Regions from separate parts of the Homo sapiens genome. Here all the other regions are reported to be linked to region 6. The links are microRNA targets in miRTarBase. Many come from high-throughput screens and were not tested one by one. Region 6 holds a microRNA gene; each other region holds the end of a gene's coding sequence.

What was found. Region 6 holds the annotated microRNA hsa-miR-370-3p (GCCUGCUGGGGUGGAACCUGGU, at 1,325-1,346, shown strand). A microRNA usually pairs through its seed, bases 2 to 8, with sites in the 3' UTR of a target mRNA and lowers its output. Matches are read on the target gene's strand: a 7mer-m8 pairs with bases 2 to 8, a 7mer-A1 pairs with bases 2 to 7 and ends in A, and an 8mer does both.
Region 1: the mRNA of FOXH1 is a reported target of hsa-miR-370-3p. Seed matches in the 3' UTR shown: 7mer-m8 at 2,741-2,747.
Region 2: miRTarBase lists GARRE1 as a target of hsa-miR-370-3p. Seed matches in the 3' UTR shown: 8mer at 845-852.
Region 3: miRTarBase lists ARID3B as a target of hsa-miR-370-3p. Seed matches in the 3' UTR shown: 7mer-m8 at 2,705-2,711 and 7mer-m8 at 2,740-2,746.
Region 4: miRTarBase lists CKAP4 as a target of hsa-miR-370-3p. The part of its 3' UTR that is shown has no 7-base or 8-base seed match.
Region 5: miRTarBase lists MTG2 as a target of hsa-miR-370-3p. Seed matches in the 3' UTR shown: 7mer-A1 at 2,296-2,302 and 7mer-m8 at 2,547-2,553.
Region 7: the mRNA of MRM2 is a reported target of hsa-miR-370-3p. Seed matches in the 3' UTR shown: 7mer-A1 at 3,512-3,518.

Annotation. Positions count from the first base shown.
Region 1 is chr8:144,470,825-144,474,898 of GRCh38, forward strand. It overlaps FOXH1 (forkhead box H1), which reads right to left. Exons shown (of 3, transcript NM_003923.3): 3 at 2,588-4,074. The coding sequence ends at 3,414. KIFC2 (kinesin family member C2) reads left to right here. Exons shown (of 18, transcript NM_001369769.2): 13 at 1,118-1,222; 14 at 1,314-1,435; 15 at 1,537-1,660; 16 at 1,753-1,882; 17 at 1,971-2,227; 18 at 2,308-3,378. The coding sequence ends at 2,565. Among named protein-coding and RNA genes, the nearest start is that of FOXH1, 3.0 kb to the right of the region's middle. RefSeq lists a silencer at 1,618-1,677 and enhancers at 2,580-3,475, 3,476-4,074.
Region 2 is chr19:34,352,224-34,356,297 of GRCh38, reverse strand. GARRE1 (granule associated Rac and RHOG effector 1) reads right to left here. Exons shown (of 14, transcript NM_014686.5): 14 at 732-3,651. The coding sequence ends at 3,343. Among named protein-coding and RNA genes, the nearest start is that of GPI, 11 kb to the left of the region's middle.
Region 3 is chr15:74,595,130-74,599,203 of GRCh38, forward strand. It overlaps ARID3B (AT-rich interaction domain 3B), which reads left to right. Exons shown (of 9, transcript NM_006465.4): 9 at 482-3,002. The coding sequence ends at 645. CLK3-AS1 (CLK3 antisense RNA 1) reads right to left here. Exons shown (of 9, transcript XR_007064715.1): 9 at 3,790-4,074. Among named protein-coding and RNA genes, the nearest start is that of CLK3-AS1, 19 kb to the right of the region's middle. RefSeq lists enhancers at 1,880-2,380, 2,996-3,884, 3,159-3,453.
Region 4 is chr12:106,235,674-106,239,747 of GRCh38, reverse strand. CKAP4 (cytoskeleton associated protein 4) reads left to right here. Exons shown (of 2, transcript NM_006825.4): 2 at 1-1,867. The coding sequence ends at 724. Among named protein-coding and RNA genes, the nearest start is that of CKAP4, 10 kb to the left of the region's middle.
Region 5 is chr20:62,200,361-62,204,434 of GRCh38, forward strand. MTG2 (mitochondrial ribosome associated GTPase 2) reads left to right here. Exons shown (of 7, transcript NM_015666.4): 7 at 323-3,208. The coding sequence ends at 717. Among named protein-coding and RNA genes, the nearest start is that of HRH3, 18 kb to the right of the region's middle.
Region 6 is chr14:100,909,862-100,913,935 of GRCh38, forward strand. It overlaps MIR370 (microRNA 370), which reads left to right and starts at 1,278; the gene lies at 1,278-1,352. MEG8 (maternally expressed 8, small nucleolar RNA host gene) reads left to right here. Exons shown (of 51, transcript NR_146000.1): 8 at 372-443; 9 at 3,571-3,660.
Region 7 is chr7:2,231,497-2,235,496 of GRCh38, forward strand. It overlaps MRM2 (mitochondrial rRNA methyltransferase 2), which reads right to left. Exons shown (of 3, transcript NM_013393.3): 3 at 2,699-4,000. The coding sequence ends at 3,626. MAD1L1 (mitotic arrest deficient 1 like 1) reads right to left here and starts at 1,449. Exons shown (of 19, transcript NM_001013836.2): 1 at 1,376-1,449. RefSeq lists silencers at 948-1,367, 1,345-1,723 and enhancers at 1,358-1,652, 1,438-1,567, 2,302-2,834.

The DNA.
Region 1 (4,074 bases), not on the chromosome of region 6:
CACTGCCACAAGTGTTCACAGCAGGTGCCACTGCAGCCCTTATCTCTCAGGGGAAAGTGAGGCACAGGAAGGCCAATGAGTAAGCTCCAATCATACCCAGGTTTGAACCGTGCAGTCACGCCCCAACATCTGGGCTCTTTTTTTTTTCTTTATTTTTGAGATGGAATCCCACTCTGTTGCCCAGGCTGTAGTGCAGTGGTGTGATCTCGGCTCACTGCAACCTCCGCCTCCTGGGTTCAAGCAATTCTCCTGCTTCAGCCTCCGAAGTAGCTGGGATTACAGGTGCGTGCCACCATGCTCGGCTAATTTTTGTATTTTTAGTAGAGACAGGGGTTTCACCGCGTTTGCCAGGCTGGTCTTGAACTCCTGACCTTGTGATCTGCCTGCCTTGGCCTCCCAAAGTGCTGGGTTTACAGGCGTGAGCCACCTCGCCCAGCCCATCTGGGCTCTTTTAAACATTTTTAAAATTTTTTACTACATATATATGTATATGTATTTTTTTTTTTTTGGACAGTCACACTTTGTCATCAGGCTGGAGTGCAGTGGTGCAATCTCAGGTCACTACAACCTCTGCTTCCTGGGCTCAAGAGATCCTTCCACCTCAGCCTCCCGAGTAGCTGGGACCACAGATGTGCAACACCATGCCTGGCTAATTTTTTTGTAGTTTTTGTACAGACGGGATTTCACCGTATTGCCTAGGCTGGTCTCAAACTCCGGAGCTCAACCAATCCACCCTCCTTGGCCTCTCAAAATGCTGGGATTTATTTTTCTTTTTTTCACGTTGGCTTCCACATTAAGGACACCACACCTGCGCTCTTAACTGCTGTCCCCAGGTCTCCTACGTGGTCTTCAGGACTCCAGAGCCTCTGCATAGGCTGTTCCTCTTCTCATTGTGTCTTTTCCCTTCTTTGCCTGGCAAATTCTTGCAAGCACCACCTTCTCTAGGGAGACAGAGGGTCTCTGTAGGACACACCCTCCCCCATGGTCCCTTAGAGCCATCCTCCCAGGAGACTAGGCTCTGCTCACACCTGCCTTCGTGGCACTCCCCACCCCACCAAATAGGGCATAAACAGGCAACGTGGGGAGGACTCAAAACACATTCTCCCGCCTCCCGCAGGTCTTCAGAGAGCTGGAACCTGCGGTGCTGTCCTGCCTCCGAGGCTACAGCGTCTGCATCTTCACCTATGGCCAGACAGGCACCGGGAAGACCTACAGCATGGAGGTGGGACAGAGCTCACGCCCCAGTGGGAGAGGCCCCAGGGGCCCTGCATGACTTGGATGTGAGCCCGGTGTGCACCCCACCCCATCCTCAGGGCCCTCCTGAGGACCCCGGCATAGTTCCTAGGGCGCTGCAGTCGCTGTTCCGGGAGATGGGGGCCGGCCGGCAGCACCGGGTGACACTCAGCATGGTGGAGATCTACAATGAGGCTGTCAGGTGGGCTACTCCACCAGGGAGGCCTTCTCCCCACCCCTGGCCCAGGGCCCTTCCGGATTTCCAGAGAATTCTGGAACCAAGACCTTCCCCTTTCTCACCAGGGACCTCCTTGCTCCAGGGCCTCCCGAGCGCCTGGCCGTGAGGCAGGGCCCAGAAGGCCAGGGCGGGATCCAGGTGGCTGGCCTCACCCACTGGGACGTGCCCAACCTGGAGACATTGCACCAGGTAGGGCTGCACCGCTCTCCGAGACCCCGCCCCGTGCTTCCACTTGGGGGCGGGGACCCTGCACCTGACCAGCCCTTCGCCCCGCCTTCCAGATGCTGAAACTGGGGAGGAGCAACCGGGCCACCGCCGCCACCGCCATGAACCAGCGCAGCTCCCGCTCGCATGCCCTGGTCACGCTGACGCTGCGCGCGGCGTCTCCACCGCGCGCTCCAGGCACCGCAGGTACCACGGCCGGTGCCTGAGCCCTGCGGAGTCTCCAGAGCACCCGAGGCCCGGCCTTCCCCCATGTCGGGCTCGCTCGCCCCTCTAGGCACGCTGCACCTGGTGGACCTGGCGGGATCCGAACGCGCACGGAAGGCAGGGGCGGCCGGCCCGCCGCGGGGAGACCCAGACGGCGCCCGGCGCCTGCGGGAGGCCCAGACCATAAACCGCTCGCTGCTGGCGCTAGGAGGCGTGATGGCCGCACTGCGGGCCCACCGGCCGCACGTGCCCTTCCGCGACTCGCAGCTCACGCGACTGCTGCAGCCGGCGCTGGGCCCAGGCACCACCGCGGTGCTGCTGCTGCAGGTGGGCGCCGGGGCGGGGCAGGTGTGTGCGTGCCGGTCGCCGCCCACCCGGGCCCGCCCACCCGCGCCTCTTGCCCGCAGATCTCCACGCGGCCGGAGGATCTCGGGGAGACAGTCTGCTCCCTCAAGTTCGCCGACCGAGTGGGTCAAGTGGAGCTGGGGCCAGCCCGGCGCCGCAGGGTCCCGCGCTCCTCCGGGACGCCTTCTTCCCTCAGCACCGACACTCCGCTCACCGGGACCCCCTGCACCCCTACGCCGTCCCCTGGCAGTCCTCCATGCCCCAGTCCCGACAACGGCTCGGGCTCGGCTCTCGCGCCCGCAGAGGGCCTGCCCCTCTAGTCCTGGGTCGCGGCCCTGCCCATGGGGTCTCAGGCCAGGTCTCTGCTGGCAGAGGCGGTAGTAAAGTCCCTGTACCCCGTCTCCCAGGGCACAAGCTCCCTAGCCTCTTTGGATCCATTGCCCCTGAGCTCCCAGAGTCACCCCTCCACCTCCGCAGCCAGTGAAGTGTGTTGTGCCTGCTGAAGTGATCACCCCCCGCCCCCAGCCCTGCATCAGGCCACAGGTCTTGGCTTTCTCCTTATCACCATTTGCTGTTATCACGGCACACAGCAGGGAATCCCAGGCCCCCCCGCCAAGTGGTTACCCAAGTCACCACTCCTGACCCAAAAATCAGGCATGGCATTAAAACGTTGCAAATTCCTTTACTGTTATCCCCCCCACCACCAGGACCATGTAGGGTGCAGTCTTTACTCCCTAACCCGTTTCCCGAAAAAGGTGCTACCTCCTTTCCAGACAGATGAGAGAGGGCAGGACTTCAGGCTGGATCCACCACTGGGCTCTCCCTCCCCCAGCCTGGAGCACGGGAGGGGAGGTGACGGCTGGTGACTGATGGATGGGTAGTGGGCTGAGAAGAGGGGACTAGGAAGGGCTATTCCAGGCTCAGCCCTGCTCCTGCAGCTTTGCCGCTGAGTGTAGGAAAAACAGGCATGACAGACCAGGGTGAGGGTTGTGCCCAGCTGGGCCACGGCCATGCGTGGGGTGGCCCAATAAACACCGTGGACTCCCAGCAAGGCTGCTGCCTGGTGTTTCGAGGCTGCTGTGGTCGCAGACAGCCGCCTCGCCTTGGCTCCCTGTCAACAAGGTGGGGGTGGGAGCGGGAGGGAGGAGTGGCCCCTGTCTTAAGAGCCTCACAGGCTGCACCAGGAGAGCAGCCAGCCTGGGCCAGGGGCCGCCAGGTCCCGAGGGTGGCTGACCCAAACGTCGTAGATGCTTTTGTTGGGTGGCACCCCTTGGAAGAGGGCGTCTAGATCGCAGAGCAGCCCTGGGGGCCCTCGGGTTTCAGGGGCCACCCCCCAGTAGGCAGGGCTGGTTGACGGACACTGGGGACAGGAGGTGGGTGGTGGTGCCAAGGGCATTACCACATTGGGAGTGTAGATAGGCAAGTAGGAGGTGGGCAGCTGCCCCCAGAGGGAGGCCCTGTGTCCCCCGCTGGACCGTCCCCCAGGAACTGCGGTGCCCTGCAGTAAGTGGAGAGGCCAGGCCCTAGGCTCTGGGGAGAGGGTTGAGGGCCCGATGGCTCCCCCCTGCACAGTCTCCCCCTCCACTCTCGTGGGGCCAGGAAGGGGGCAGAGGGGCCACAGAGGCCTCTCAGAAGAGGGAAGGGGTGGGGTGGGCACCGCCTCCTCCCCACTGTTCCCTGTGCCTGCAGGAACTGGGCTGCTCTGTGGAGCTAGCCCCGGCCAGGGTGCCCCCTCCCCGGACCCTCCTAGCAGGGACTTGATGCTGAAGCCCTCACTGGGTGGTGGCGGGGGACTGGGCGGCCGGTATGGCCGGCCGTGCAGCACGTAG
Region 2 (4,074 bases), not on the chromosome of region 6:
CGCCAGGCTGGAGTGCAGTGGTGCGATCTCGGCTCACTGCAACCTCTGACTTCCTGGTTCAAGCGATTCTTCTGCCTAAGCCTCCTGAGTAGCTGGGATTACAGGCACACGCCACCATGCCCGACTAATTTTTGTATTCTTAGTAGAGATGGGGTTTCACCATGTTGGCCAGGATGGTCTCGATCTCCCGGCCTTGTGGTCCACCTGCCTCAGCCACCTACAGTTCTGGGATTACAGGTGTGAGCCACTGCGGCCGGCAGAGACAGGTCCTTCTTATCCCTGTAAGGCACAGTATCTCTGCCATAGATTGGGTCCCTGGTTTGGGAAGAGGGTAAAACAAGCCCTCATTCTTGGGTCTCGTCATTGGACAAGCTGGCTGGGCAAGTCACAGCATCCACATTTGGTGGAACATGGGTGTTGGTAGACCCCAACCCAGAGAGCTTGCACCCTTGCAGAGGACGTCTCCTTCACTACTGCACTGGCTCCCCCTGCACAGGGGCCTAAACCAGCTTGGGCCTTAGGGAAGCCAATAGGGGAGGCGTAGCTGCTTGTTCTCCCTCCTGCCCATCCACTTCAGCTCACCGTAATATCCCAAGTGGTCTTCCCCTTGCTAGAATCAGAGGACAGGCTGACCTAAAAACCAACTCAGTATGCAGCTTTTCAAAGCAATGAGTCAGGCAGGGCTTTTGACATAATGTCCTCTGCAGTTCATTTTAAACAAGGATACAAAGTATTATTAAATGTATATTTTTAATAAAGCCAATAGTTATTTTACTTATAGGAGCTTTAAAAGATACAAAATGTAGAGTTCCAGTTTGGAAGCATTGTAACTATACACACAATGTCCTGCTGATGCCCTAGCAAGGCACCCACGCCCAACCATGCAAAGGACACACACGTTCACACATGCACACACATGCGCTTTGGCGAGACCCCTCTGCCAAGCGCAGCACCTGGAATTACCAGTGTTCAGAGCAAGGCGGTGCCGGGAACACAGCACCTACATGGAGACCACACAAACGGCTTCACACAGTCTCACAGCCCATGGAGATGCAATTAGAAAATGTCTTCCTTAATAGAGAAAAACAAACTGGAAAGTGACAATTAGTGACGTCACCTGTGCTGGAGCATCAAGGATTGACCTCTGTCCAAGGTGAGGCCTTTGGAGAGGCACTATTAAAACATGAGTACTTCAGTATAATGGAACTCGAAATACAGGGTACTGTGGACACATTACTGAAGGAAATAGAAAACTATCTTACAAGTAGAACAGCCATAGACAACTTTAACAGAGATTAGTGTGCACACCGTGACAGCTAACACAGACAAGAGCCACGCAGGGTTGGTGCAAAGCACGTGCCTGAAAATGTCTATATACAAAACAGTTCTTTGTAAACATGGTGAGGTGAATGCTCAGAACCACGGCAAAAGATCATAAATACAGGCAGCAATGCATCCCCACACAGCACAAAAGACAACACCTGAGGCCTGGGAAGAGCCTGACAACACAGTACTAAAAACTCAGGTGGCTGGGCTCAGACACCCTACGGGTCCTCTCAAATTAGTGTGTGTGTTTACATACATACATACATACATATATATATATTCTTTTTTTTTTTTCTTGTTGAGACGGAATCTCACTCTGTCACCCAGGCTGGAGTGCAGTGGCACAATCTCAGCTCACTGTAACCTCCGCCTCCCGGGTTCAAGCGATTCTTCTGCTTCAGCCTCCCGAGTAGCTGGGACTACAGGCGCACGCCACCACACCCGGCTAATTTTTGTATTTTTAGTAGAGATGGGGTTTCACCATATTGGCCAGGCTGGTCTCGAACTCCTGACCTTAGGTGATCCACCTGCCTCGGCCTCCCAAAGTGCTGGGATTACAGGCGTGAGCCACCACGCCCAGCCTCTTTTTGGTATTTTTATATATAAATTTACTTATATCTGTAGAAAAACGAGAACATAAATGTGTTATTACAATCTTTGCTGGAAAAGCTTATATGGAGTTAGAAAGAATAAACCATTTATTAGTAGTTAACATATATTAAAATGGTTTAATGATTTAAGAAAATATAAAAAAAATATTAATACTGTCAAACTTTCATACCAGAAAATATTATGGATTTTTCTCAGACTTTTTCAAAGATGAAATATGAAAAATTTAAATAAGTTTTATATAAAGAACTTTCTGTAACCTCAATTAATATACAGTGGGATATGTCTATTCTATATAGATATATTTATTATTATTTCTCAATTTAAGCACCATTCAATTCTTCTGGATCCATTCTGGCTGGAAAATATCCCTAAATCCACAGGATGTTATCTATTTAATGGCACATGTTAACTGAAAATGAGGTGGATTTTTTTTTTAAGAAAAGACCTTAAATTAATTTCTATCTACATCTTAATTGGTTTGTCTTCTGAGCCAGCTCACAATGTCAATGCAATTTCTAGTGCAGGTGTCTCTGAGTGCCCCTTGACCACACCCCGAGGATTGTGGCAGTGTCCTGGCCATGTGTGGAAGGATCGAAGGGCAGCAGGTGCAGCCTTGCTCTGCACATGGACAGCAGCTGGCTGGTCCACCGCCACGCACCTTCAGCAGTGTACCTCCGGCACAAGTTCCACCATTCTGCTTCAATAAAGCTGGGAAAGGCCGCAGTCCCAGGGTGCTGCTGGGTGGCGAGGAACTGTCCACCCCCAGAAACCCCAGGTGACTGCTTCCAATCACAAATATTCTATATTTTGCCCATTTTGTATAAGCTTAAATATAGATAGTGTTAAACAAACCTCCAGCCAGTATATCTGTTATCTTAAAATATTCAATGCATTTTAGGCAGGAGATGTTTTAACTAAAAACCTACATGAAAAAAAAAGCTATAAAATACAGTGATTGGTGTGGTCATCACTCAAGGTGTGGAGGAGGGAGGAGAGGGTTTCCAAAAAATGGTCAGTTATGCCCTCAGCTTTCAGGCCTGATGTCTTCCCAACACACAGCAGGACTAAAAACCCAAGAGCTGTGTTTCTTCAAGTGTGGCTGTGGCGCCTGCATCAGAGTCACCTGTGGCGCTTACTAGGCATGCAGGTTCCCTAGCAAGCCCCTGAAGGCCAGACGCCTGTGTCTCCAGCTGGCTCTCCAGGGCTCTGATGCCATCGTTTCAGAAGCCAGGTTTAAAGGCTTGGAGCTGCCAACCACCCTTGTCCCCAAGGAACCCTCCCTGGGATGGGGCGCACTGGTCCTCTGAGGGGCTGGTGTCAGCTAAGTGGCCCTGGGGTGGGGACACTCATCCCCACAGCTCTGGGCGGGCAGGCAGGCAGGCAGGCAGGCTGGCTGGCCTGGGGTCAGTACTGGGGCAGATAGGCTGGCCTGCGCTCACCCTTCCCAGGGAAGGCCTTGAAGCCCTTGGGTGCTGCCTTGTGTGCTGGTGGGGGTGGGGGCTGGGGTGGGGTCTGCACATAGGAGAAGGCAGCGGCACTGCAGTCGTTGGTTGCGGCCCACACTGGGGACTGCAGCATCTGCATGGTGTCGTTCCACTGGCTGCCAGGGCTGGTGACTGCATAGAGTGGTGCGCTGGGGCTGGGCAGCGTGCTGGGAAGCGGGGAAGGGTGCTGCCAGGGTGCTTTGGGTGGCCACGTTTTGGTTTTGTTATCCTGAGAAACAAAAGAGAGTTCTTAGTGGCATTTCGGGCAATGTATCATCATTTCCCACCTCCCCAGATGCCTGGCCCTTATTCCCTCCTAGGAAGCCGGGTGAGAGCCCCACTCACTCCCACACCCCTGTCCAACAGAACTTCTTGCAATGATAGCCATGTTCTGTGCCTATACGGTCTAGTATGGTAGCCACTCGCCACATGTGACTAGTGCAAACTGAGGAAAGGAACTTTTTTTTTTTTTTTTTGAGATGCAGTCTGTCTCTCGCCCAGGCTGGAGTGCAGTGGTACGATCTCGGCTCACTGCAACCTCTGCCTCCGGGGTTCAAGCGATTCTCCTGTCTCAGCCTTCTGAGTAGCTCGGATTACAAGCGCATGCCACCATGCCTGGCTAATTTTTGTATTTTTAGTAGAGATGGGATTT
Region 3 (4,074 bases), not on the chromosome of region 6:
CAACCTCCTGGGCTCAAGTGATCCTCCTGCCTCAGCCCCCTGAGTAGCTGGGACTACCCATGCCCAGCTAATTTTAAAAAAAATTTTTATAGAGACAAGGCTCTTGCTGTATTGCCCAGTCTGGTCTCAAACTCCTGGCCTTGAGCTATTCTCCTGCCTCACCCTCCCAAAGTGCTGGGATTATAGTTGTGAGCCACCACACCTGGCCTTGGTGTTCCTCTTTGTGTACCCTGGGTACACCTTGTCTCAGAGCATTTATGACATTTTAGCAAAATTACTCTGTCGACCTATCTGTCCCCCTCCCCAGCCCATCAGCACTTCAAGGCAGGACAGCATTTGGATCTTCTCCCATCACCCCCTAGCACAGTGTCTACAGCGGAGTCAGGCACAGGCTAGGCCAGCGGTGAATACTTACTGAAAGGAGCTGGCCCTCCCCTTCGCTCTTCCTCTGCCCACACTTGCTTCTCTTCCACCCACCAAGGTGTGCTGTTTGCCCAGAAGCCTGTGGTCCACCTCATCACGGGGTCTGCTCCCCAGAGCCTCGGCAGCAGCGCCAGCAGCAGCAGCAGCTCTCACTGTTCACCAAGTCCTACCTCATCCCGGGGCACCCCCAGCGCAGAGCCCTCCACCAGCTGGTCCCTCTGATGGGCAGGACCCAGCTTCCCACTTGCCACTCTCCTGTCGAGAGTGAAGGAAGTTGATGCACAGAATTTACCTCATCTCACAGAGCCCACGTCGACGAGCACCATTTGGCCAGACATTGAGAGTTTGGACGTGTCCGTCTGTCCAGGCTCCATTCAGGTCCTGCTGTACTCTGGGGGCAGGGAGAGGCTAGAGGGGCAGGACAGACAGCGTTGTCCAATCAGGGATTGTCCTGGAGAACTGGGTGGGGGTCTGTGGGTGTCCAGCTTCCTCCAGGGTTCCCCAGCCACCTCCCAGCTCAGGGCACAGTGTATCGACAATCTGTCAGCCGACGCAGGGCTGGAGGCCCTCCATTTCCCTCCCCTTTTAATTTATTTCCCTGACCCTGCCTTCTGCCATGACCCCAGGGCCACTAGTCTCTTCCCCTGTTTTTAAGTCCCATGTGGGGCTGCCAGGAGCCAAGAGCATGCCTTCATGCCCTTCTCTGCAGAGCATGGGATGGGGCCCTTCCAGCCCACTTTGCCTACTGTTAGGTTCCTGGGGTACGGGTCCCTCAAACACAAGTCTTGAATCAGTCCTCAGGGCCCCAGATCCCCCTTCTAATAGTCTGAAGGAAGAGGCTGTGAGGGCAGTTCAGGGCCAGGGCCCACAGGGCATCTGCTGATGGGAAGGCAGAGCCTCGGGGCTGCCCAGCCCTGGCACCTGCTTCACACGGACCATTCTCTGACCGCCCCCGCCAAACCTCATGCTCCCCACTTGCCCTTATTGGCCTGCTTTCCCAAAAACAGCCCACTCATCCTTTCCCCAGCCCTCTTCAGCCCTCCCCAGTCCTCCCCAGCCTTCTTCAGCCTTCTTCAGCTCAGCCCTCTTCTATTTCTTATGGGGCCATCTTGGCCTCACCATCCCCACACGTGCCGATGTCAGGTTCATTGAAATACCTCAGATTTGTAATTGTTGATGTTTGAGTCTTCAGGAAGTATTTGCATCTCTGAAATCTTTTTTATATGTGTTTTGCTGACTTTTGTTTTTTTTTTATTTTAAAATTTTTATCGTAGCACCAAAGAAATGAAAACAGATCACCCCCAAAGCCAAGCAAGTGATTGGGTAACCCGGCCCCTCTGGCCCTTCCCTCAAGCCCAGTGAGGAGGTGGGTGGAGGCATGCAGGGGAGACGACTCAGGGATCGCGGGGGCGGGGAGGTGGAGTGGAGAGGCCCGCTCTCACACCGGGTCGGGCCCTGAAACTGTACCAGTTCTGAAGACCGTTTTCTGCCACACCCCCACCCCCAGCTGACCAGGGAGGCAGAGGACACCTCCCCATCACTCAGCATTCCCAGCTCAGGGCACAGGCAGGCTGGGGTCCTCGCTGGCCTTGCCAGAGGTTGAGCCGCCCCAGGGTATGAGGAGATGAATAACTCCACAGCTCCTCCTGGACCCTGCGCGGGAGCAGGCAGCTCCTGTGCTGTAAAGAAAATTGATTCGCTTGCGGCTCACCTCAGTCGAGGAAGCCCTGGAATGTTCAGCAGAACACCACCACTGTGACATGGGGCTGTGGCAGTGGGAGACACCGCGCGTGGCGTGGGTGTGTGTGGCAGCGTGGCTCGCATTCAGTCCTGTGTAGGAGAGGAAAGGGAATCAAAAGCTTGAGCACAAACAGATACCTCAGCCCGGTAAGCTGCAGCTCTGCTCAACTGCGTCTTCTCTCAGCCCTCCACACACACTCACCCCCACTCCCACACACATACACACACACACACACATACCCCATCTCCCGAGGGCTGACCTCCTCTGGCCTCAGCCTGCAGGGTGTGGGCAGAGAAGGGCATCTGGGACGTGGTGCCAGTGAGGAGCCCAGTTGGCTGGCACTGGGCCCATTTGAAGGTGTCTCAGACATTTGGCCAGTATGTCTTTCTCAGGGGTTTGGTCACAAAGGATGGACTCTTCCCACCCAGAGGATGCAGGGAAAGCACACTGTGTCTTTCCGGTCATTGGATCCTCTCCCTTTCCCCAGGCAGCTCGCCTGGCCACACCGTTGGAGTGAACCCTCACTGCCCTCAAGGACAACAGCAGGGTGTCACCCAGAGCCCGATGAGGGGTGCCAGCAGGTGCCCCCACGAGTGGGGCCTTGGCCCAAGCAGAGCTTCCCCTGAAGGTGCCATCAGCCAGGGCAGCTCTGTCCCCTCCTGCTCTCCATCTTATATGTATTCTAACCAGGAAAAATGTGATAGCACATGGGTAGCCTAGGCAGTGAGTAAATACCTCAGATGTCCTCCTGCAGCAAGTGTCTATATGTTGTGGTTATTTTCTATCTTACATGTTCTCGAATGTTTATATTTCAATAAACCTCTACCTCTTCACACAAGCAGGTCTCTCTCAGTTGCTTTGAGTGGCCTTTCCACTGGACAGTACTGGGGAGAGGTGAGCTCCTTCAGAGTGAAAGGGGACTGAGTGAACTACTCCTGACCCCTTGATTTCTCCTGAACCTTCTCCCCTTCACCCACGCCTTCTTCAAAGGGAAAGCTCACTGAGCTCACTCTCAGCTAACCTTGTGTGTTAGCAGGTTTCTCTGGCGTTACCCCAGAAGCTCCTAGAAAAGCCTGCCCGGCAGCAAGCCACAGGCCCCGCCACGCCATTGGCCAGGATTGAGTCACGTGCCCTCCCCAGAGCCAATGGGAGCGAGGGGGCAGGGTGACCGGGAATGACCTTAGACTGCCCGCCCTGCGCGGAGGGAGATCCACTACAGGCTGCGCCTCTGCCCCTGCGAGGGGCACCCCTGGGTCTCTGGGAAACGGAATGGAGGGTCTTATGGAAGAGAAGGTTTGGAACCACCGCTGGAGGGAAGGGGAGAAGAAAGCAAGCAGGAGTGGCGCGAACAGGAAGGGACTAGGGATAGAAGCCGGGCTTGGACACAGTGAGGCACGAACCCCGACAGACACAGAGACAGACAAGGGGTGCTGATCTCCTCACTGGGCGGGGTGGGCAGGAAAAGGAACAGGAGCTGGAGCTAGAGCGAGGGCTGCGAGCGGCGAGTGGATACCCGGCCTCAGGGAGGAGCTTCCAGGAGGGCAGGGGTCTCCTTTGGAGCAGCACCGGGGACGTTTGCTCGGCAAGGGCTTTTTGTGCGAAGTAACCGAAGCCAGTCAGGCTAATGGCGGCAGAGAGAAGGATTTATTCTTGCACCCAGGGTGTGCGGAGGAGCCCAAGGGCATTTGGACCTGTGTTGACGTCCGGAAGGGCCCGGAACCCAGGAAGCTCTGCCCGCAGAGGGTATTCCTCTCCCTCTGAAGACCACCTCAAAGCTCAACTTTATCACCTCCACGCATGAGACCGCCGGCGGCTGAACTAAAATCTCACCATCCCAATTCCAGTTTCTGGGAATTGTCACCTCCATTCGCTCTCATTAGAAATCCAGCTTTTTTCACGAGGTGAATAAC
Region 4 (4,074 bases), not on the chromosome of region 6:
CGTCTCCCGCCTCCCGGAGGAGATCCGGAGACTGGAGGAAGAGCTCCGCCAGCTGAAGTCCGATTCCCACGGGCCGAAGGAGGACGGAGGCTTCAGACACTCGGAAGCCTTTGAGGCACTCCAGCAAAAGAGTCAGGGACTGGACTCCAGGCTCCAGCACGTGGAGGATGGGGTGCTCTCCATGCAGGTGGCTTCTGCGCGCCAGACCGAGAGCCTGGAGTCCCTCCTGTCCAAGAGCCAGGAGCACGAGCAGCGCCTGGCCGCCCTGCAGGGGCGCCTGGAAGGCCTCGGGTCCTCAGAGGCAGACCAGGATGGCCTGGCCAGCACGGTGAGGAGCCTGGGCGAGACCCAGCTGGTGCTCTACGGTGACGTGGAGGAGCTGAAGAGGAGTGTGGGCGAGCTCCCCAGCACCGTGGAATCACTCCAGAAGGTGCAGGAGCAGGTGCACACGCTGCTCAGTCAGGACCAAGCCCAGGCCGCCCGTCTGCCTCCTCAGGACTTCCTGGACAGACTTTCTTCTCTAGACAACCTGAAAGCCTCAGTCAGCCAAGTGGAGGCGGACTTGAAAATGCTCAGGACTGCTGTGGACAGTTTGGTTGCATACTCGGTCAAAATAGAAACCAACGAGAACAATCTGGAATCAGCCAAGGGTTTACTAGATGACCTGAGGAATGATCTGGATAGGTTGTTTGTGAAAGTGGAGAAGATTCACGAAAAGGTCTAAATGAATTGCGTGTGCAGGGCGCGGATTTAAAGTCCAATTTCTCATGACCAAAAAATGTGTGGTTTTTTCCCATGTGTCCCCTACCCCCCAATTTCTTGTCCCCTCTTAAAGAGCAGTTGTCACCACCTGAACACCAAGGCATTGTATTTTCATGCCCAGTTAACTTATTTACAATATTTAAGTTCTCTGCTTCTGCATTTGGTTGGTTTCCTGAAGCGCAGCCCCTGTGAATAACAGGTGGCTTTTCATGGATGTCTCTAGTCAGAGAAAAATGATAAAGGCTTAAATTGAGGATTAACAGAAGCAGATTAACCTCAGAAATCCTGTCTGGCTGGCAGATTTCAAGTAAAAAAAAAAAAAAGGTGGGTTGGGGGGACCCTTTTCTTTCTAGTTGTCTTTAAGGAAAATTAATTTTACTTTTTTTTTTGTTCTGGCCGAAATTTTTATGAGATATCTCTCACTTGTCTTCCACTTTGAACCGGTTAAAGCTCATAGCTGTCAGCTCTGAATGAGGAGGGGAGAAGCCCCTGGGTCTTTCTTTGAAAGGAATCCGCTGCTTGAGGGCTGCCTCCCTCATGGTGTGCGTGTCGTTTCTCTTCCTGACGCATCTTGTGATATCAGAGGTAACTATGCAAAGCATCCAGGCGGTTCTGAATGTGAAGCACTACACCCAGCAGAGTCCCGGTGCCCTCTGTCCCCACTGCCGGCCCATGTTCTCTCTCCGGAGGTCACCAAGGAATGCACAGGTTTCGACTACCAGAAAGGGGAGTCCTTGGGTTCTTTCAAAAAATTCGTGAGGAGAGCTGTCTACAGTGGAATAGGGGGTCTCCCTGGGGAATGCAGGCCAAGTCCTTTTATTTTAACATGATGTCCATGAAGAGGTTTGCCGTCTGGGCAGCCCTGTCGGCAAGGAGCGTGCATACTGCGTTTGTGTAATTGTTTGCTGTATCTCCCTTCCCTCTGAGCTGTATTGTTCTTTAATGGCTGTCTTGCCCTTCCAAAAAAAATTGAAAAAAAAAAAAAAAAAAAAACCCGAAAAGTAAAAAAAAAAAAAAAAAGTTTTGTTTAGTTTACTGTGAAATGAACTGTATGGCTTATTTACAGTATTTTTAATTCTTAATAAACACTTGAGCTTTGTTATGACTTTTCCAGAGTGGTTACATTCTGAGAATTTCGTAATTATGATGTGTTTTATTAGCACATGGTATAAACGATTAGCAAATAGGTAAGTTTACTATTTTAAGGCTGTTTTTTCTTTTAATTCTGAAACCGAGATGGCCTCACTCTTGGGCCGGGGACCTCCTTTGATGGACTGTTAGCAAGTGTGTTCAATGATTACTTGTCTCCAGCTCTGTTAGCTTCAAGCACAGGATCTCAACCCTCACTACCTATTAGAATCTTCCTAGGAGCTTTTAAAAAATGCCTGGGCCCTGCCCGCACAGATGCTGATTGAATAGGCATAAAGAGGCTGGCACTGTTTTTTTTTTTTTTTTTTTTGAGACAGAGTCTCGCTCTGTCACCCAGGCTGGAGTGCAGTAGCAGGATCTTGGCTCACTGCAAGCTCCGCCTCCCGGGTTCTGGCCATTCTCTTGCCTCAGCCTCCTGGGTAGCTGGGACTACAGGCGCTTGCCACCACGCCCGGCTAATTTTTTGTATTTTTAGTAGAGACAGGGTTTCACCGTATTAGCCAGGATGGTCTCAATCTCCTGACCTCGTGATCTGCCCGCCTCGACCTCCCAAAGTGCTGGGATTACAGGTGTGAGCCGCCATGCCTGGCCAGCACTGGTATTTTAAAGGCTCCCTCTCTGATTTTAATGTCCAGTCAGGGTTGAGAACCAGTGTCTCAGACCATCTGAGTGACCTTCAGCCCTAGTGCACACCTGGGCTTGTTTCCTTCTCTGGATTGCCTTCCACCCTCCACCCAATAAAAACCACATGCTGTTTATTGAGTACCTGTGTGCCAGGTCTTGTGCTCAGCATGCATAATAACCTGTTATTCCTTCTTACAGTCCCCCGAGGTAGGCAGTATCATTTCCCATTTCACAGAGGAACAGCAGGCTGAGAAGCTTCATACAAGGTCATTCATTACGAAGTGGCAGGGCTAAGCTTTGGACCTCATCCTTGCTCTAACTGGGACAGCATCCTCTACCGTCCACTGACACCAGTGCAGGTCCATTTGGCCTGTGGAATATCTGTCCTGTTCCAGAGCCCAAGGCTGCAAGAGATTTCTTCTTTCCCACCTAGGGAGTAGAGGGTGGCTAGGACCTGAGGTCCTGTGGCTTGATGTCCCCCTTTCTGGCTGAAAGGCCCCTCATCTCTGAATTGCTGTCAGTCACTCTGGGTCCCTCAAAGCTTCACAACTCAGAGCTGGAAGTTTTTTCCAAAGCAGTTAGCAAATCAGGACAGGCTCTGTAAATAATTTCTATTTTTATTTCAAAACCATTTTACTTTTTATTTTAAAGTCTTAAGTATTGACATGTATGCTTTAAATGGCTACTTTCACCCACTTGGGGAGGGTGCGGAACAGCATAAAGTCGCAGGCATGGAAAAAATTAAATTCATTTCCTTTTCAGGCCAATTGGTTGCATTGAGTATGTTCTTGCTGTTTCTCCTGTCATTTCTGCAGTTGCTCATCTCTGACTATGGAGTGGTTTAATAGATTCTCATTAATATTATAAAAGAAAATATTGACAAGTGTCTGATAAATATAAATTCAAGTGGTGAAAATAAAAGGAATATATTAGGAATTCACATATTTCTGATGGTGGGGCAGTTAGAGTTCTTACACCAAATAATGCAGCTCAGTCTTGTTTCTTCATTCAATATAGTGTTCATTCATTCAATAAACATTTATTGGGCTGATAGCCAGCCATTTTGCTAAGTATCAGTGAATTAAAATGTACAGGACTAGCCCAGTGGGAATGACAGTCATGTAAAGTGGTAGGTATTAGAAATACAGGTGCCATACTTGGGTGTATTGGGCCAAGAGGAAGGAGTGACCATTGTGCCATGGTTGGTCTAGAGGTGGTTAGAACAGGTTTTTGAAGGGCTGGGGGAAGTCCCTTGGAATGCTTTCATGAGTAATGGGAAGCTTCGGGAAACAGGTTGTTTTGCCCTTTGAACAAACAATATACACAAATTACTGAACATGTTGGTTAAATTGCAGATCCAGCACCAGGATAAGAGGCTGCAGTGAAACTTCTCAGGCAGGACTGACAGCACCCTGGTGAGGAGACTACTACACCACTGACCATGTGGCCTTGGGCAAGTCACTTAGAATGGTGATGGTGTTGATAATAGAGATGATGGTGGAGATGGAGATGATGATGGTGGTGATGAAGATGATGTGA
Region 5 (4,074 bases), not on the chromosome of region 6:
CATTTTCCTCTTTTTTGAATCCTATTAGAAGCAGAAAGAGAAGGTATGAAATGTACTCTACTAGATAGATCCATCGCCACGCTGGTCTCCCAAACATCTCCAAGCATTGAATTCCTCAGGTGTCAGTTGGCCCAGTGAATCACCCAGGTGCTAAATCAAATGGCTTCAGTTCAAGGCGTTCCTTGAAAGGAAAGTGTTAGAACTCAGGAAATCCGCCTTCGCAGTGGGCTCCAGGCCTTCTCTCCCAGGCTCGAGGTGGAAGGCGCTCTTGGGTGCTGGGTGTGCCAAGTGGTCACCTCGTGTGCCCCTGTCTTCCCTGCAGTGGCCGACATCCCCGGCATCATACGAGGCGCCCACCAGAACAGGGGTCTGGGGTCCGCCTTCCTCAGGCACATCGAGCGCTGCCGCTTTCTCTTGTTCGTGGTGGATCTTTCTCAGCCTGAGCCGTGGACTCAAGTTGACGATTTAAAATATGAACTGGAGATGTATGAAAAGGGCCTGTCTGCGAGGCCCCACGCAATCGTCGCAAACAAGATTGACCTCCCTGAAGCCCAAGCCAATCTGTCCCAGCTCCGGGATCACTTGGGACAGGAGGTCATCGTGCTGTCGGCGTTGACCGGCGAGAACCTGGAGCAGCTGCTGTTGCACCTGAAGGTGCTGTATGACGCCTACGCGGAGGCCGAGCTGGGCCAGGGCCGCCAGCCGCTCAGGTGGTAGCCACGCCAGAGCGGGGTCGCCTCTGGGCCTCTGTCTGAGCAAACCTGGGTGTGAATTCGGTGGTTTTGAATGCATAAAGTGCCTTGTGGACACGGGGGAGTTGTGGTGCTTCTGGGTCTCTGGGCCCCGCCTGCTGGCCTGAGATGCCCTCATGTTGGGAAGCATTCCGTGCCCCCTACCCCGCCTGCCCTCCGTATTTCCTGCACCTGTCAGCCTGCACCGACTGATGAGCCAGTTGCTCATTTGTGCTGATTAACACCCCTAATAAGGGGTTGGGGTGCCCATAACGGGGTGGCCCTGCCGCTGACTCAGGTCTCCGCCATGCACGCGTGGACTCTCGGATGAGCTCAGCAGAACCGCACAGCCAGAGCCCCAGGTCAGAAGTGCAGACCAGGGTTCTCAGCACAGTGCCCGTCGTGCTTCCATGGCTTGCTACGGAGAGAGACCTCTGGATCCACACTGGGGCTGCGTCTGGCCCGTTGTCCAGCAGCCCTGCGGTACCGCAAGCCCAGGCACCAGTGTCTCGGGGGGCCTCACTGCTGCGCAAGGGGTGGGGCCGAGGATGCAAGTCCAGGCAGAGCGGCGCAGGCAGCTGTGAGCTTTTCTCCATCAGCCGTCTGAGAAGAGCAGTGAGGCCAGCTGCTTCCTGTCCTTCAGAACACTTCTCTGTGCTCAGTGGGAGCCAGGAAGCCTCAGGCTTCACGACTGAATGCACCCAATATCCGACCTGGCTGCGTGTTTCTGGCTGGGCTGCCGTGTGCACAGCAAGTTAACTAGAGGGGCTGTGGGCCATGGAACTGTCAGCGTTATTCTCAGAAGGCGGCCGTGGCATGGGCAGGGTATAGTGAGGAGTGGAAGGAGACGTGTGCCTGGTAATATGGGGCGGAATTTCCACTCAGCTCCATTTGCTGGGGATTTAAAGAGAACCCTTGTGCTACGCCAGGCAGTTACCGAGCCGAAGGGAGATGATGGGCCTTCGCCCCTCAGTGGGATGGCAGCTGAGGGGGCCCTGCATTTGACCGTCGAGACTGCAGCAGCGCCTTTCCTGTCTGTGGTTTAAGTCTTTGCAGTCAAGTACTGATGCATCCAAGCCAGGCCCATGCCTGGTGTCTCCCTGACTGCAGAGGAGCCCCAGGGCAAGGACAGCTCAGCTGCTGGCAGCCTGCCTGGCCCATAGACATCCCCCAAGTAGTCTCAGGCCTCTGACATGTCCCTGAGGGGCCCCTAAGAAAGAAAGTGGAGGGGACACTCCAGAGGCTGTCGTGGGAGGATCATGTGAGCCTGGGAGGTCAAGGCTGCAGTGAGCCGTGATTGCACCACTGCACTCCAGCCTGAGTGACAGAGCGAGACCCTGTCTCAAAAAACAAACAAACAAACAAACAAAAACAGAACATTCTGGGCACGGTGGCTCATGCCTGTAGTCCCAGCACTTTGGGAGGCCGAGGCTGGTGGATCACAAGGTCAGGAGATTGAGACCATCCTGGCTAACACAGTGAAACCCCGTCTCTACTAAAAATACAAAAAAATTAGCCAGGCGTGGTGGCGGTCACCTGTAGTCCCAGCTACTCGGGAGGCTGAAGCAGGAGAATGGCGTGAACCTGGGAGGCGGAGCTTGCAGTGAGCCGAGATCACACCACTGCACTCCAGCCTGAGCGACAGAGCAAGACTCCATCTCAAAAAAAAAAAAAAAGTGGAGGGGACAAAGAAGCAGAGAAGGATGATCAGAAGGGGACCCCCAGCCCTTGGAGGAGAGACGGCAGCCTCAGGTGAGATGAGCCGCAAGGGTCCGGGGCCGCGTCTCTGCACGCTGGGGTGGGGCGCGCTTTGCACAGCAGGCCGGTGCCTGGGCTTTCAGGAGCAATTCCGTTTTGATCTCACATCAAATCTGCAGCTAGAACATGACAGTCCTTTTACCCGAAGCTTTATTTTAATGTCTTATAATTTCAAAGGTCCTTCTATCCTAGAAACCAGAGATGGGTTTTGCATCTATTTGCTTTTTCTTTCAGGCCGCCACAAAGGATTTTGTGGAGTCGCCCCAGGCCTGACGGCGTTAATTATCCCTGGCTTTCATCTTGATGCTCTTGCAGGGGAGGCTCAAGATGCCTTGTGGCTCGACCCCTGCACGGAGCCCCCAGCCCAGCCTCCCCGTGGGTTGAAACCTTGATCTGGGCCTGACTGTGGCTGCTCTGGGGACATGCCCTCGTCCTTTGCTGAAGCTGAGGCTCCAGAGGGGGAGTCACTGCCACGAAGGTTGCCCAGAACTTTCCTTGCTGCAAAAAGCCCCAAGACTTCTCCCTGCCACACACACAGCTTTTGCCATCGCGTTCTAAAAGCTGACAGCTTTCTCTCCAACACTGTTCTCCCTGAGTAGGGTAAAGCTACACTTGGCTTCCCCAGTTTCCTGTTTCCTGCCTAGAAACAAATTTTTGTCAGTCTGCTTTTCAAATGGGATATATGATTCACATACCATAAAATTCACCACTTTATATAATTCAGTGGTTTTTTTGTATGTTCAGAAGGTTGTGCAACTGTCAAACTGCAAATTCCAGAACGTTTTCATCACCCCGAAAACAGACCCTGTGCCCGTTAGCGTGAACCCGCCTTCCCCCTCCCCCGGGCACCCACCCGTCTACCTTCTGTCCCCAGGGACCTGCCTTCCAGACAGATCCTGTAATTGGAGTGTACACTATGTGGCCGTCTGTGCGGGTCTTTAGTAGCCATGCCTGAGGCGGCCGACACCGCAGTCTTTAGTTACGGAAGGGACCGCGGGTGCAGGCCAACCCCCCCACAGTCAGCATGTGTGGGCTGCCTTGGACACAGGGTCTCTGTGTATCCCCAGCAGCCTCAGAACACCTGACCCAGAGACGGCGTCAGTAAGCGCTGGCAGGTGCACGGAGGATGGCGCTGGCATGAGGAGCCTTCAGGCTGCTCCTAGTTTTAAACTATTTTTACTTTTGTTTTTATTTTTTTAAGACAGAGTCTCACTCTTTCGCCCAGGCTAGAGTGCAGTGGTGCGATCTCGGCTCACTGCAACCTCTGCCTCCTGGGTTCAAGCGATTCTCCTGCCTTAGCCTCCCAAGTAGCTGGGATTACAGCCTGCACCACCACGCCTGGCTGATTTTTGTATTTTTAGTAGAGACAAGGTTTCACCATGTTGGCCAGGCTGGTCTCGAACCCCTGACCTCAGGTGATCTGCCCACTTTGGCCTCCCAAAGTGCCGGGATTACCGGCATGAGCCACTGCGCCTGGCCTGAAACTCAGTGTGTGTGTGTGTGTGTGTGTGTGTGTGTGTGTGTGTGTGTGTGTGTGTGTGTGAGAGAGAGAGAGAGAGAGAGAGAGAGAGAGAGAGAGATGGAG
Region 6 (4,074 bases):
TCCTCCCTGGTGTCACTCCCTACCCCCTTCCTGCTTTATTTTCCTCCCTAGTTCTTACCACCATCTTTTATCCCATGCATTAGGCTTACCTTTTCTGATGATTTTCTGTTCCTATCTCCACCCACAGGGATGTTAATTCTCATGGAACCGGGATCTGTCCGTTTTGCTCACTACTGTATCCCTGGCACTTAGACCCAGCAACAATACAAAGTGCATGCTCAGAAATTTTGGGGAAAAATTTATGAGATACTATTGAATTGTATCCACCCCAGAGGAGTGTCAATGTATGCAAAGTAGGCAGTGTGGTGCTTGGTACAGAGTATGCATTCAATAAATATTGGCTAATTATGATTATTATGTCTAATTCACAGGACTGTTGTGAGAATCAAACGAGATAATGTATGCTGAGGCATGCTGTGAACACTACGTGCTGGGTACAGGAGGTACAATATTAATGATCCCTGCTGCTTGGAGGGAACTTGCACTTAAAATGTTATGCTTTTCATTTTCACACCACTTAGGAGGGAGGAAAGGCTGGTGGGACGATCGCCACCTGAGGCTCAGGGAGGGGACAGGCCTTCTCCAAGGCCTCACAGTATGAAGAAGGCAGGGGCAGGTCCCCACACTGGTGGTCTTCCCACGACTCCCTCATGACAGTCCCCCAATGGACAGATTGATGTGTAAATGACGTTATACACCTACACCATAACTCTATATAATATATAGAATTATTTTCAGGTCCCTGAGTTGCTCTGAGGCCAGTTGTGGCAGGTGGTACACACCCAGGACAAGCTGGGGGGAGGGGTAAGAAGGAAACTGGCTGTGTATCTTTGGTAAGGCCCATAGTGAAGCCTCTTTTGGTTTCTTGGAATCAAGTTGAACATCAAGAATCTCACTGCATAGACTTCCCCAAGGGCAGTCCCACTTCACAAAATGAATTTTCATTTTCCAAAGCACATCCCTTAGTTGGATTTCTGTTTTTCAGTGTATTTGTTTAAGCTCTGATGCCATGTCCAAAAAAGAACATGCCCGAACAATTCCCTGCCCGAGTCCCAAACCCTTGGCTTGATCTGAGCATTGAACTAATTCATTTCTTTGATCAAACTGGGGACTGTTTGAGCAGTGGGCTGGGCGTCATGGGACGGGGAAAGGGTGGGGTGTGCGCAGGTGTGCAAGGCGGGCTACTTGAGGGATGGGCGATAGTTCAGGTCACCCTCCGGTTGGACCCACGAGGGCGCTGCATTCCTCATTCTACAAACCGTACAAGTCGGGGCACAAGACAGAGAAGCCAGGTCACGTCTCTGCAGTTACACAGCTCACGAGTGCCTGCTGGGGTGGAACCTGGTCTGTCTGTCTGTCTAACACCAGAGCTCGGGCGCTGCTGCAGAGGGAGCCAAGATTTGGGTGAGGGAGGGGGCTCAGAGGTGGGATGGAGGGTTTTTTTGTATTTTTTTTTAACCTGGTTGCCATTGGCTTGAAAATAATAACATAACTTTGCTTGGGGACCCCCCACTGCAACTATCTTGCTGATGGGGAAACAGGCACAGAGACGTTAGTTTGCTTTGCTGATGTCACCCAGCTCGTCTGGCATTGAGGCTGGATTTGGGAGGTGGGTACTGAGGTGTGAGCATATGTGCTGCAACCACTGGGCCCACTGGCTCGTGGTGTGTGCGCAGGTGCAGATGGCTCAGTGATCTGGGTTTGAGGGCTTTTACCAATCCCCCCAGCAGTGGGTGTACTCTGAACTCAAGCTTGTGTATTTCACACTCTCCCTCGACCCTTCTCTTTAGCCTTCACTGAAAACTCCTGCAAGCCACTGACCCATGGAAAATATTTAAGAATACATATATTACATATATGTTGTAAATTTATATATATATATATCTGGAAAGGGATTGTATCCAGGAGATTTGGGAGTGATTGTTTAAGGTAGAGGGAGGCAGGGGCATGAGAGGGGGAGGGATGGAGGTGGGGACCACCAGTGGTAATTCTCGTGGGTGGTTTTAACAATCAATACAAGAAGAGAGAGACATGCCAGCAGCAAGGACGGGAGTGGGTTGTAAACCAGGGATGGTGATTAATTCTTCACAACTGAGGGGCATTAAAAAAAGAAATCAGAGTGGTTCGTGGCTATTAATTTTGTTATTAAAAATAATCAAGGAATAAAGAAATAAGGTAATAAAGGCCTCGAATGGAACAATTCTGAGAATGTGTTCTGGGCAAAGGATTATGACTAATCCAGGTCTGGTAACCTGATATTAACAAACAAAAAAGGCCTCGTAGGCTATTTTCTTTTTTTAACCGGCTTTATGTTCCATAGAATGGGCACACTGGGGTTTCTCTCCCAGAGAAGGTGAGTGCAGACAAATAAAAGCCGGCTTTGTGGGTGTTGATTGAACAGTTAAAAATGAATGAATGCGTAAATAAAACCAGAGACAGCCAAGCATGTACCAATGATGGCAATGTGTTCCTCACTCCCCAGCTTTATAAATATATAATTGATAAATCAGTATTGTATGTATTTGTATTGTATTTAAATTGTACAGTGTGACATTTTGATATACATATATATTGTGAAATGATTACCATAATCAAGCGAATTAACATACCCATCACCTCATGTAGTTCCGTTTTTCCATGTGTGCAGTGAGAATACTTAAGGTCTACTCTTTTAGCAAATTTCAAGCATGAAATACATTATTGTTAACTATAGTCACCGTACTCTGCATTGGGTTACCAGAACTTACTCCTAACTGCATCTTACTCCTAAGTTTGCATCCTCTCACTAAGATCTCCAGATTCCTCTCACTCCTGACCCCTAGTAACTACCTTTCTAGTCTCTGCTTCTGTGAGGTTATTCCAAAACAAAAGCCAGGTTCTAGGCTGTTGAGGCTGAGGGTAGGAAGTGTATCAACAGGTATACAGAATAGTCACTGGTCTTGGGCTAAATGGTGACTTCAAGTGTAGTGGCTGCATAGTCAAAAATGAATTAGATGAGTACAAAAGTGACGAAATGAAAGAATGTCAAGAATGGACCACAAAGACAGTGTTTTATGACCTAAAGATTAAGATTTATCCATTTGTGTACAATTGTGGACTATATAAAATAAAACAAGACTTTGACCTCAGTGGATAAGAAGTATTTGGATGTACTAATCAATATTTTTGGTCTGGGTCAGTGGTGGGTTCATCTGTGTTTGTTGTATTTAAAAAAATAAATGAAAACATTGAAAAGGGTGAGTAGGAATCAAATATGATTGTCACTCCAAGTCTGCGTCATCTGCATCCGTTAGGAAGAATATCTGGGTTGGTTCCTTCTTGGGTAAGATGCACAGGGACATATGTTTGTGAGAGTCATGATTCTTGTTTTTGATTAGAGTGGTGAATTAATACACACTCATTTGTAATAATACAAATTAATAAATGAATAATTGCGGAGAGCTATGCTTGGGCCAGTGGTGAGACTGTCATGAACCAAAGATTATGATTAATACTGTGCTTCTCACCTGATGGCCATTAAAAAAATCTAGGTTTTTTCATCCTTTTTAATATCAGCCTTGTGTTCCACAGAATGGAGGCTCCAGAGTGAAATTAATGACACTTTGTCGATGAAGATCTTGATTGTGACCTCTGTGGAAAATGAGCCATGAACCAACCAATGTGAGTAATGTTTAGTGTTGTTGTTTTGAAGTTGGGTGGTTGGTTGATGGTTGTTTATTACATTATTAAACATGAATCAATACATAAATAAGGTCAAAGATGACGGGCATGATGAGAATGTCATGAACCAAGGGTGATTAATTTCATATAGCGTAACTGTTACCAAATTAAAAAACAATATTACTGGGCTGTTCTCTGTAGCAAATGAGCAAAGAAAAAAAGGAACACACACACACACACACACGTATACTACATATATATCACATGTATCATGTGTTATGTTTATACATGTATCCTATATATATATCACATACGTAATATGTGTTATGTTTATTTTTCATATTTGCAGGCTGGGGTGGGTTTATATATGTTTATGGGGTAATTAAACATAAATGGATGCATGTATAAACAAGA
Region 7 (4,000 bases), not on the chromosome of region 6:
CTCCGGAGGCTGGGACAGGAGATTTTCTTGAACCCAGGAGATGGAGGTTGCAGTGAACTGAGATCGCGCCACTGCATTCCAGCCTGGGTGCCAGAGCAAGACTCCGTTTCAAAAAATAATAATAATTAATTAAAAAAAAAATCTGGCCTCTGGGAATCAGAAACGAGGCATGCAACAGTGACAGTAAAGATGATGATCATCACAGCTGTGCTCATTTTCATTGTTTATTTCTAGTGACATTAATAAGTACTACTACTATTTTCAACTAGGTATCAGAAAGAAAGGTATCTGACATTTCCGAGCACCGAGACTTCTTGAACTTCAGTTTCCTCATCTGTAAACTCATGACAGTGAAATCTACTTGCAAAGTTGTGGGGAACGGGGCCAATATCCCTCAAGTCTTCCACCGCTAGATGATGGGAATACGGCTGCAGGTTGACCAGCACTATATTTGTAAGCTCAGTCTCAACAGGGTGGTGAATTAGGTCTTTTTACACAGATTCTAGAGATGATGAAACCGAAGCTTCAAAAAGTTACAGAACGGAGATTGGAACTTGGGTCTGTCTGGCTTTGGAAGGCTGAAGACAAACCGCAGTAAAGAACTTTGCACCCCCAACACCGGCGCTTACTATGGGCTCATGGCAGGCCGGCCCACCAGCCACAACTAGGGAACAGCCAAGCGCGTTTAAAAGCCAAAGGTAGAACTTCTGCAGCTGCACAGTTTCTGAGTTTCCATTTAACAAGAACCTTGGCCTGGTGCAAGCAGAGGCCTGAGCTCCCCAGGCTGCCAGCCCCGCAGAGGCAGGCCCGCCTGGAAGGAGGCTCCACAGCCCAATTCCTCCATTGCCCAAACGAGATCAGGGTGGCCCTTGCCATCCCCGAGGGGAAACCGGGCCCACACGCCCCCTTCCTGAGAGCGGACCGGCGCGAGCCACCAGGATGCCAAGAGCCCCTGCAGCCCCGACTTCTCCACCAGGCGCCAGCTCAGGCCCCTTCCTCGGCGCGCCGGCACCCTAGCCCGGGGACCCACACGGTAGGCAGCGGGACCCCGGGGCTGGGACCACGAGCACGCGCCCCTCGGCCGCCCGCCCTGGCACAAGGGACGGCTGCGGAGACCCAGGCGAGGGGCCCGCTGTCCCCAGCACAGCCCAAAGGGGGAGTGGGGACAGGGGAGTGGGGAGAGGAGGGGAGAGCACAGAGAGGAGAGCGCGCCCATGGGAGACGGGGCGGGCGCGGGGTCCTGAGGCACGGGGTCTGGGTCGTTGTGCCCCACCCTGGCGAGCACACCCGGTCCGGGCCCTCGGCCCCTCCCTTGCCATTCCCGGGACCCCCGGGACCCCGGGACCCCGCCGCCCGCGCGAGCCGGGCCGCTTACCTCAGCCGCTCGCAGCCAGCTTGCCGCCGCCGCTCGGATCTCCCTCCGCTCCGCCGGCGCCCATTTATCGCGACACTTGCGCCTGCGCTCTCGCGAGACCTGCGTGGCAATCGGGCCGTAAAGAACCGAGTCTGCGCACCGGCTGATCCTGGGGACTCCGCGTCCGCACCCGGAGCCGCCACCCCTGGGAGACTCCGCACGGAAAGGACTCGGAACCGAAGGCTGAGCCAAGGCGCAGTCGGGGGCCCCCCGGCTTTGCGCAGGACGCGCTTCCACTAAGGCTTTCGCCTCGCGCCGTAATGTGTGGAATAGCCGCGCCCACGGCAGCCTCCTCGGACAAACTTGCACCGTTGACTCTTCCCAAAATTTTGCTACTCAGTATCAGCTTGAATCAATCCGTTATTTTGCTTTTTTCTGGGCCCACTAGAAATGCAATTTATGCTACTAGGCTACCTTCCCAGTGCTCTGCAAGCCAGGGCACAGCATCCAATGGGGTGAGGTCAGGCCCCACCATTATTATGGTAACCTTTGTCTATCCTTCAAATTGGAGCCTTCCTGAGAAGAGTGTGCCTTACTCGTTTCCATATTCTCTTCCTCTCCTCCTCCCGTCTCTGCCCAGCCCCTGGCTTCCCTCTAAGAAGATGCTGTTCCTAAGGGTCTGCAATGAATTTTCCTTCTTTCAGAGAAAGACTTCCAAGTTGTGTGCCCCGGGAATGAAATGGAATAAGAGAACGAGGTGGAGTAGGGCAAGAGTCCCTGGACTTAACAACCTGACTGCAACCAGAAATAAAATGAAAAGTCAAAACATCTGGCGGCCGGGCGCGGTGGCTCACGCCTGTAATCCCAGCACTTTGGGAGGCCGAGGCAGGCGGATCACGAGGTCAGGAGATCGAGACCATCCTGGCTAACACGGTGAAACCCCGTCTCTACTGAAAATACAAAAAAAAAAAAAAAAAATAGCCGGGCGTGGTGATGGGCGCCTGTAGTCCCAGCTACTCGGGAGGCTGAGGCCGAATGGCGTGAACCCGGGAAGTGGAGCTTACAGTGAGCCAAGATCACTTCACTGCACTCCAGCCTGGGTGACAGAGTGAGATTCTGTTTCTCAAAGAAAAAAAAAAATCAAAACATCTGACCCGCAGTTTCCTTCGGGGAGCTGGACAGAGCCCCAGATTCCTGATGGAGATTCCTGGGTTTCCAGACTTCCCCCACTGGTCCTTGGAATTTAATCATAGTCAACAAACTCTTCTTGAGGGATGAGTACACCTCCAGGAAATGGCTTTGAGGAAGCCAGTTTAAAAAAAACAAAACTTCAAAGCATGAAAGTACCTTAAAATAATGCAATCTCTATTATTTTATTAAATATAAAGCTGCGTCAAGTTCCTAGATGAGTAAAAGAAAATAAACACACCACATCACTGCTTGCTTTGGCAATTACATTTATGTTCTTGGGAGCCCAGACACTGATATAAATTTCCAGCAAAAACCAAAGCAGACCCACTGCCTGGATAAATTCAGACCATACGTCTTCCCTAATTGTTCCGGGAACTTTTGCTGCTTGAAGAATGCGTGAATTGCTATATTGTTCACCAGAAAGACAGAAGTTAATCCCCAGATGGAAATTTCAGATTTTTCTTTTGGTTTGCTTTTTGGTTTTTCATTTTTGTAGACATGGGGGGTGTTGCTATGTTGCCCAGGTTGGTCTTGAACTCCTGACTTCAAGCAATCCCCCAGCCTCAGCCTTCTAAAGCCCTGGGTTTACAGGCATGAGTGGCCTCACCCAGCCCCCAGATTTTCTACTTTAAACAGCCACACTAAGAACTGGAAATCTGTGCGTGGTGCTCTCAGAGCAGGGGTGGAAAGCCTGTTTGTGTGTGACAGTTTAACAGTCTATAAGATGAAGTCCCGTCAAGGCACACATGGGCACACCCATCCCTGCCTCGGCGGATTCCTTCTGATCCTTCCCACAGTCTGTTTTTCTCCATCCTTCCATCCTCACCTCTTTCTCTTGATAACTTTCTCTTCCCAAATCACAATATAGCGGACTTTTTCATTTTCCATGGCCCCTGAACTTAGTTTTGTCATCTCTTTTTGGTTAAAAAGAGAGAGAGAGAAAGAGAGAGAGAGACTCCCCACTTGTCCTGCTCCATCTCCAAAATCAGCTCAAATCTCCCAGGAACTCTTCAGGAGCTCAGGCTACGTTTCTAGCTTAAAAGGAGCTAATGACCATTATGAAAATGGCACAAGAAATCCTCACTGCTTCACAGTGCCCTTCCTTCCGTGGTACTGTGTGGCCAAGAAGTACACTTCTGATGACTCTTTCCTGCTGGCTTCAGGTTTGATGATCCTTACATTCTGGAATTCCTCTGTCAGTCTCCTCTGTAACCGACGGCTTTGACTTCCAGCCCAGGTTTTACAAAGGAATGTCCCCCCAGGTTGCAGGATGTCTGGGGTCACGCTGAGAAGGGTCAGGCACAGGCTGATGAGCCTGTCATGATCGAGGTCCCGGAACCCTGTGGCATTGGGCGCCATGTCGCTCAGAATCACATCTGCTCTCCTGCCAGGAAGCACCTCGAGGATTCTCTGTGAGGTTCTCGGGTCAGTCACGTCAGCAGGGCACAGAAAAGT